Homo sapiens: one gene and its partner. The protein of the gene in region 1 purifies or fractionates together with the protein of each later gene. This does not show direct contact. Each region holds a gene or a part of one and is shown on either strand. Other genes may lie near its edges.

Evidence for each region. The genes of interacting proteins can lie anywhere in the genome.
Region 2: the proteins of CSRP1 (region 1) and ARL3 fractionate together in Homo sapiens (co-fractionation; one large-scale study listed by BioGRID). This does not show direct contact.

The regions. Positions count from the first base shown.
Region 1 is NC_000001.11:201,489,989-201,493,660, forward strand, and holds part of CSRP1 (cysteine and glycine-rich protein 1), read right to left. Parts: intron 357-3,672; coding exon 188-356; intron 1-187. UniProt on the Homo sapiens protein: Could play a role in neuronal development.
Region 2 is NC_000010.11:102,707,787-102,711,458, forward strand, and holds part of ARL3 (ADP-ribosylation factor-like protein 3), read right to left. Parts: intron 1-3,672. UniProt on the Homo sapiens protein: Small GTP-binding protein which cycles between an inactive GDP-bound and an active GTP-bound form, and the rate of cycling is regulated by guanine nucleotide exchange factors (GEF) and GTPase-activating proteins (GAP).

The DNA of each region.
Region 1 (3,672 bases):
TCCCTGCTGCATCCCCAGCTCCTGCAGCAGCCTGACACATAGACACTGCTCTGTGACTGCCTTTTAAATAACTGGTTTTCTGAGCCTTCCATTGCTTACCCAAAAATGGTTGTAAATACACATGAGGCCTAATACAGGGTGGGGGAGAGAGCTCAAGAAAAAGGTTGGGAGGGGATCTTTTACTCACTCCTCGTGCTTGATACCCAGCGACTCCCCCTTGTCAGTGCTGAGGGTGCCTGCGCCCTGCCCGTAGCCATAGCCTTTGGGCCCATACTTCTTGCCGTAGCAGGACTTGCAGTAAATCTCCTCACCATGCACGGCCACAGTGGTACTGTCCAGATTCTTCTTGCAGACCACTGTGGAGGGGAAGGGGAAGCGGACGCATTGAGTTGAAGCTGGGGTGACCTTCTTGCTCATTGCAAGCTTCTTACAGCTGAAGCTCTCTGGCCTCTTTGCATACATAATATCCTGATCTTTCAGGAACTGTCTACAAATGGAGGCAGGCGGGATGGCCAATGGGTGGGAGGACAGAGGGATGGGATCTGCATATCCGACTCTAGAAATGCTGGCCAACACCAATTCCTCTTCCAGGAATCCATATGTGTCTCCTTTGGTCCTCTGCACCCCTAAACTTCCTCAGGCTGCAGTGCAACACAGGGTTCAGAGGCAACAGCCTAGGCTGACCCCAAGCCACAGGACGCCTGTTGAGGTTCCTCACTCTGCCCTCAACAGAGACCATATGTCCCAATGGGGGAGGAGGAAAAAGAAAAGAAGGGCAGTTTTCCTGCCTTCAACAGTGGAATCCAGAAGAGACTATCTGTGCATGTTGGCAGGGAGCCAACGGGGGGAGATGCAGGTGATGTGATACCCCATAAGAAATGTTTAACATTTATTAAGTGCCCAACATGGTGGGCTTTGAAATGGGATGCAGCTCATGCTAATCACAAGAGGATTTGAAGTTTCTAATCTCAGAAATCACTTTACCACAGGAAGAAGTGAGGGTCAGACACAGAAGAACTTCCTGACTCCTGGGGTAAGAGAGAGTGGAACGGAAGGAACTAGGGATTGCAATGGTCTGAGCTGGAAAGGCTGTGGGCCTCATATTTCGTCCTGTTAATCTCAGAGGGGAGCTATGCCCAGCTATCCAGAATAAAACAGTTTGGGCTGGGTGCAGTGGCTCATGCCTGTAGTTCCAGCAGTGGGAAGCCAAGGCTGGAGGATTACTTGAGCCCAGGAGTTTGAGATCAGCCTGGGGAAGATGGCATAACCCTGTCTCTATTTATTTAAAAATAAATAAATAAATAAAACTTTTAAAAATAAAAATAAAGTTAAAGCAGTTCAGAGCCTGGGGTCATGAAGAGTCAGACTGCCCAGAATCAAATCCCAGCTCTCTCCCTTTCCAGCCATTTGCAAGTTTTTTTTGCCTTTCCAGCCTCTGTGTCCTCATTTGTAAATGAACATAATAATGTCTGCCCCAAAAGCTGGTGGTGAGAATCAAATGAGATCTGACATGTGAAGTACTTGGCATAATACCCTGCATACAACAAATGCATAATAAATGTTGGCTACTCTTATTAGTATTATATAAAGTTAGTACCATCGGGAGACAAGGAAGTGGGAGGGACAGGCCCCAGCTTCAAGAGATCATTGCTTCTAACTTTCACATACTCCTCTCAAGAGATTCAACTGCATTCTTTTTCTTTACTTGTCCTGTAATCCTAATTCGGTTTGATCATATTCCTTAAATATTGGAGTTCAGCATCTCAGTTGGACGCATCCTCAAACATGTCCTGAACATAGAAACCGAGGGATACCACTGGAGAAGCCACGCCTTTTACCACCCTCGGAGAAGCTCTCAGCTCCTTTCCTTGCAACTGCCATCCTCTTGCCTTTAAAGGGTCCATCCCTCTGCCAGCTCCTCTCTCACCCTAAGCCCCAGGTTGGAGACTTCAGACTAAATAAGGACCCTCTTGTCCTGCTCTGGAGATCTCCATCTCATTCCAGCACTCTGGGCCATCCAAATATGGAACTTCCCACCATTTCCCCCCGGGACCAGCTCCCAAGAAGGAGGGAGAGGGAACCACAGGCCAAGGGCTCCAACATTCCCTTCTAGGGTGGGAAGTCAGGAATTGGCCTGGAATTGTTTTCCTGTAAGATCCCAATTGAACTGAAAATTCCAAGACCAGAGAGAAGGCAGAAAGCAAAGAGTGCTTGGGGGAACAGAGGTGTATTTTGGCTGATCTCTCCAGTAGGAGACCCAGGAACTCAGCCCAGGGCAGACCTCAGGGCCTGCAAGTTGACATCTTCCAGATGGCTCCCCTGCCGAGGACCTCCCTGCTCCTTTCTGCTTTGCCTTGGCCCTTCTGTTCTCCCAGAGGCCCAATCCTGCCCATCGTGGCCCTCTGCCCCTCTACCTCCATCCAGGTGATATACTGAGAGACTCTGCAACTCACCAAAGTCTTTGTAAGATCCACCAAAGACTCAATCAAGGGGAATTTTAAAGGCAGGCCTGAATAAATTTCTACCATATCATGGTAAGCCAATAAGGGGAAAAGAAAAAAAAAAGACTGGATTTGTTGGAAACACATACTTCCAGATGCCACTTTGGTGGGCCCTTGTGATACTGCTTGGAAATAAAGGGAAAAGGCAGCCCCAGGGGAGAGGTCAGAGCCCCCTTGCCCCACTCAGAAATAGAGAATGATTCTCTGCTTCTGGAAGGAAAACCGAGGCCCACAAAACAGTTCCAGATCACGTGTTGGCCAGATGCAGGGCCAGGCCAGAACCCAGCCCCTGACCTCCAGACCTGGTGGTTTTCTGCCAGCCATTGCTCCCCTCCAGTGGGCCACACATGTGGGGCCAAGAGGGTGAAAAGTGTCAGTAAGTCTCAGCCTGCAGGTGAGGAGACGCTGGTGTCAGAAAGTGTGCAAGGCTTCCGTGAGCTTCCCCTGTGCTCTTGGATTCTAGGGAACAGCCCAGGGCCAACCTGTGGGGCCCTGTTCCATCGGCCACCATCACAGAGTTCTTCTTTCCTCAGGGCTGGCTGCTTAACCCACCTTCCCCAGCAGGGAGCTGGGTACAGCTCAGAGATGGGCACATAACCTCAGGGCAGGTTCCCAGCCACGGAGCTGAGCTTTCCCACCAGCCTCTGAACCACCACCTGCTCATAGGATCTGGCAGCCCCTTTCAAGACCATGGGAGTATACTGTAGGCCCTCTCAGTCCCTGGTCCCAGGCCAAGCCCAGGGTGGAGGTCATTCTCCCCACCTTTGCCTATGACATCATCATGTCTTCCTCCCGCCCATTCAGACACTCAGGAAAGGGCACTGATATGGTTTGGCTGTGTTCCCACCCAAATCTCTCCTTGGGCCAAATGGAGATAATTGAATCATGGGGGCAGCTTCCGCCATACTGTTCTTGTGATAGTGAAAAAGTCTTACAAGATCTGATGGTTATATAAATGGGAGTTCCCCCATACAAGCTCTCTTGCCTGCTGCCATGTAAGACATGCCTTTGCTTCTCCTTTGCCTTCTGCCATGATTGTGAGGCCTCCCCAGCCATGTGGAACTGTGAGTCCATTAAACCTCTTTCCTTTATAAATTACCCAGTCTCAGGTATGTCTTTATTAGCAGCATGAGAGTAGACTAATACAGGCATGTAGGTGGGCAAGCTGAGT
Region 2 (3,672 bases), on another chromosome or scaffold:
CCAGCAGTAAGATGGAAGGTTTAGTCTAAGCTAGACAAATTCTATGCCAAAAGATTTGGGGGACAGAGATTGAATAGATTGGAAACAAACAGAAGTCTGGCTTTTTAAAAGGCCAGACTTTTTTTTCCTTTTTCTTTTTTTTGGGGGGACAGGGTCTTCCTCTGTGGCCTAGGCTGGAATGTAGTGGCGTGAACACGGCTAACTGCAGCTTCGACTCCCTGGGCTCAAGCGATCCTCCCACCTCAGCCTCTCCAGTAGCTGGGACTACCGGCTCACACCACCACGCCCCACTAAGTTTTGTATTTTTTGTAGAGATGGGGTTTTGCCATGTTGCCCAGGCTGGTCTTGAACTCCTAAGCTCAAGCGATCCACCCAAAGGCAAGATTTTTTTTTTTGCTGTTTTTATCTCATCTGGTCTTGAATACTTTGACAGCATTCCTTCTTAAAACTATATTTACAAGAAGTCTCCCTGGTTTCTATTAGCTATATTGCAATCACTCATTTATAATATCACCTTTCAGAAAAGTAAAAATTAAAATTCTGAGATCCTTAGGGGACTGGTGACATAAAAAGGCTAAGAGGAAAACCCATTTTACTACTCATCCTGAGTTCCTGATTGTAAGTGAAAAGAAGAGGTCTCATTACCTCTTAAAATAAATTATAAAACATCTGGAATTTATCAAATTAGTACATTAAATGACACAGGCAAAGTTCTTCTCATGCATTTTCTGCTTAGTGCAGAAATTATGAAGGAAGATCTGTTTCCTATTTTAAAAAAAATTTTTTTTGGCCGGGTGTGGTGGCTCACACCTGTAATTCCAGCACTTTGGGAGGCCGAGGTGGGTGGATCACTTGAGGTCAGGAGTTCGAGACCAGCCTGGCCAACATGGCGAAATCCCGTATCTACTAAAAATACAAAATTAGCCGGGTATGGTGGCACATGCCTGTAATCCCAGCTACTTGGGAAGCTGAGGCAGGAGAATTGCTTAAACCCAGGAGGTAGAGGTTGCAGTGAGCCAAGATCATGCCTCTGCACTCCAGCCTGGACAACAAAAGTGAAACTCCATCTCAAAACAAAAACAAAAAATAAAACCATATATTATATATATATATATATATATATTTTTTTTTTTTTTGAGACAAGGTCTCACTCCTAATGCCAGGCTGGAGTACAGTGGTGAAATCATGGTTCACTACAGCTTCAGCCTCCCAGGCTCAGGTGATCCTTCCACCTCAGCCTCCGGAGTAGCTGGGACTATAGATGTGTACAACCGCACCCAGCTAATTTTGTGTATTTTTAGTAGAGACAGGGTTTCACTATGTTGCCCAAGCTAGTCTCAAACTCCTGGCCTTAGGCAATCTGCCCGTGACGGCCTCCCAAAGTGCTGGGATTACAAGAGTGAGCCACTGCACCCGGCCTATAAAATATTTTCAAAGTTTAAAATTAATGTTTTGGGTTTTTCCTCATGTGTCTCTTTTAAAGAAGTTACTAAAAATACTGTTTTTTTTTTCAGGCAGAGACTTGCTCCACACTCATTACATTTGATATTAAAGAATTAAGAGAAAAACAAGGCCAGGCACAGTGGTTCACACCTGTAATACCAGTGCTTTGGGAGGCTGAGGCAGGAGGATAGCTCAAGGCCAGGAATTCAAGATCAGCCTGGGCAACAAACACGAGACACATATCCCTACCAAAAAAAAAAAAAAAAAATTATCCAGGTGTGGTGGTGTGCACCTGCGGTTCCAGCTACTCAGGAGGCTGAGACAGAAGGATGGCTTGAGCCCAAGAGTTTGAGGCTGCAGTGAACTATGGTCGGGCCACTGCATTATGGGCTAGGTGACAGAGCAAGACTCTGTCTCAAAAAAAAAAAAAAAAAAAAAGAGACAAACATAATGTTTATTCACCTTAAAAGGAGAGGAGCAAAGCACAGATAAGAAAGAAAAAGAAATCATTCTAACTATAAGGCTGAGTGCAGTGGCTCATGCCTGTAATCCCAGCACTTCGGGAGGCTGAGGCTGGCGGATCATTTGAGGCCAGGAGTTTGAGACCAACCTGGCCAACATGGTGAAACCCTGCCTCTACTAAAAATACAAAAAATTGGCCAGGCATGGTGGTGGGCACCTATATTCCCAGCTACTTGGGAGGCTGAGGCAGGAGAATCGCTTGAACCTGCGAGGTGGAGGTTGCAGTGAGCCGAGATCACACCAGTGTACTCCAGCCTGGGCCACAGAGCTAGACTGTTTCAAAAAAAAAAAAAATTCTAACTATAGATAAACTTTATTAACCTAATGGTGTAGAATACAGTGCTTCTACATTTCTAATGAGTAATTTTCCTTATTAGGAAATAATAACTTCAGATACTTCACCTTTGAGTGAAATTACAGAGAAATGCAAAGTTCAGCTAATGTTTTCTTCCAGCAAAATGATAAATGGCATTTCAAGCATGGTCTAGGGAAGACAAGTGCAAATATAATACAGCATCATATTAATCCAACTACTGAGGATGGGATCACAGGATTATCAGGGTTTGCTAAATAGGGAAGAGGATATTTATAGAGATCAGGGTTCTGCCTGAAAGGTACAAAGTAAGCTGATTTAAGAGGCTGGATGAAAGAGACCAGAATAAGTCTATTCTGTGCATCTATACATATATGCCCATATTTTATTTTAACTGTCAAATGAAGGGAGACAGCGATTAGAAGTTAAATTTATCATAGGGCTGAGTTTTGCAGTATAAATACAATGACATTAATTTTTAAAGTGCATTTTTTGGCCAAAATATCCATTCACGCAATTATCATTAAACACCCTTAATGTGCCCCAAGTACAACAGTGAGCAAAACGGGCATGATCTCTATGTAGGATTTATATTCCTGTGACATTAAATAAAACAATTTAAGAAACATGAACTTCAGTTAAAAGTATATTGTGTGTTACCAGCATGTGTGTATACAAGTTATCTACACCCTGGTGGGCAGAAGTGGTCTGACTCAACCACAAAACATTTAAACAAACTTTTCTACAGTCAAATCATGAATAGATGTGCTATGGACTACAGACGTTTTATCTGCCTCGAAATCAGCTTAAACTACTGGCAGAGGCATGGTGCCCTGACCTAAAACAATACAAACTAGGTCATTCAAAGAAACCAGAGTGGTGGAGGGAGAAGGAATGCGTTGGTATATGGAAAATATATGTGGTTGTGAGGACCAGCTAAAATTTGAATTCTGAAATTACGAAGCCAACAGTCAAGTACATACGGTCCCCATAACTAGCTTAAATATAACTGACTTCCATTTGTTTTTACGTCTTTCAACTGAACTCCTATCAGCTTAAAGCTCAAAATTGAGAACTTAATCCAAACTGTGTCTTCTTTCTCATCACCCTCTCCTAAATAAATACAAACAATGTTTCCTAAGGAACAAAGTCTGAGCATCTCCTCAGGAAGAGTGGGTTCCCACTTCACCAGAGTCCTAATGAAATGAATGTTATGGGCTTTAGAATTTCACAGACTTGTATTCAGCTTCTGTGTGTGTGTGTGTGTGTGTGTATATATATATATATATGTATGTATATGTATCTGTATATATATATGTATATATATGTATGTGTGTGTGTGTTTTTATATATATATATGTATATACATAACACTGCACACAGTTTCAGCTAGA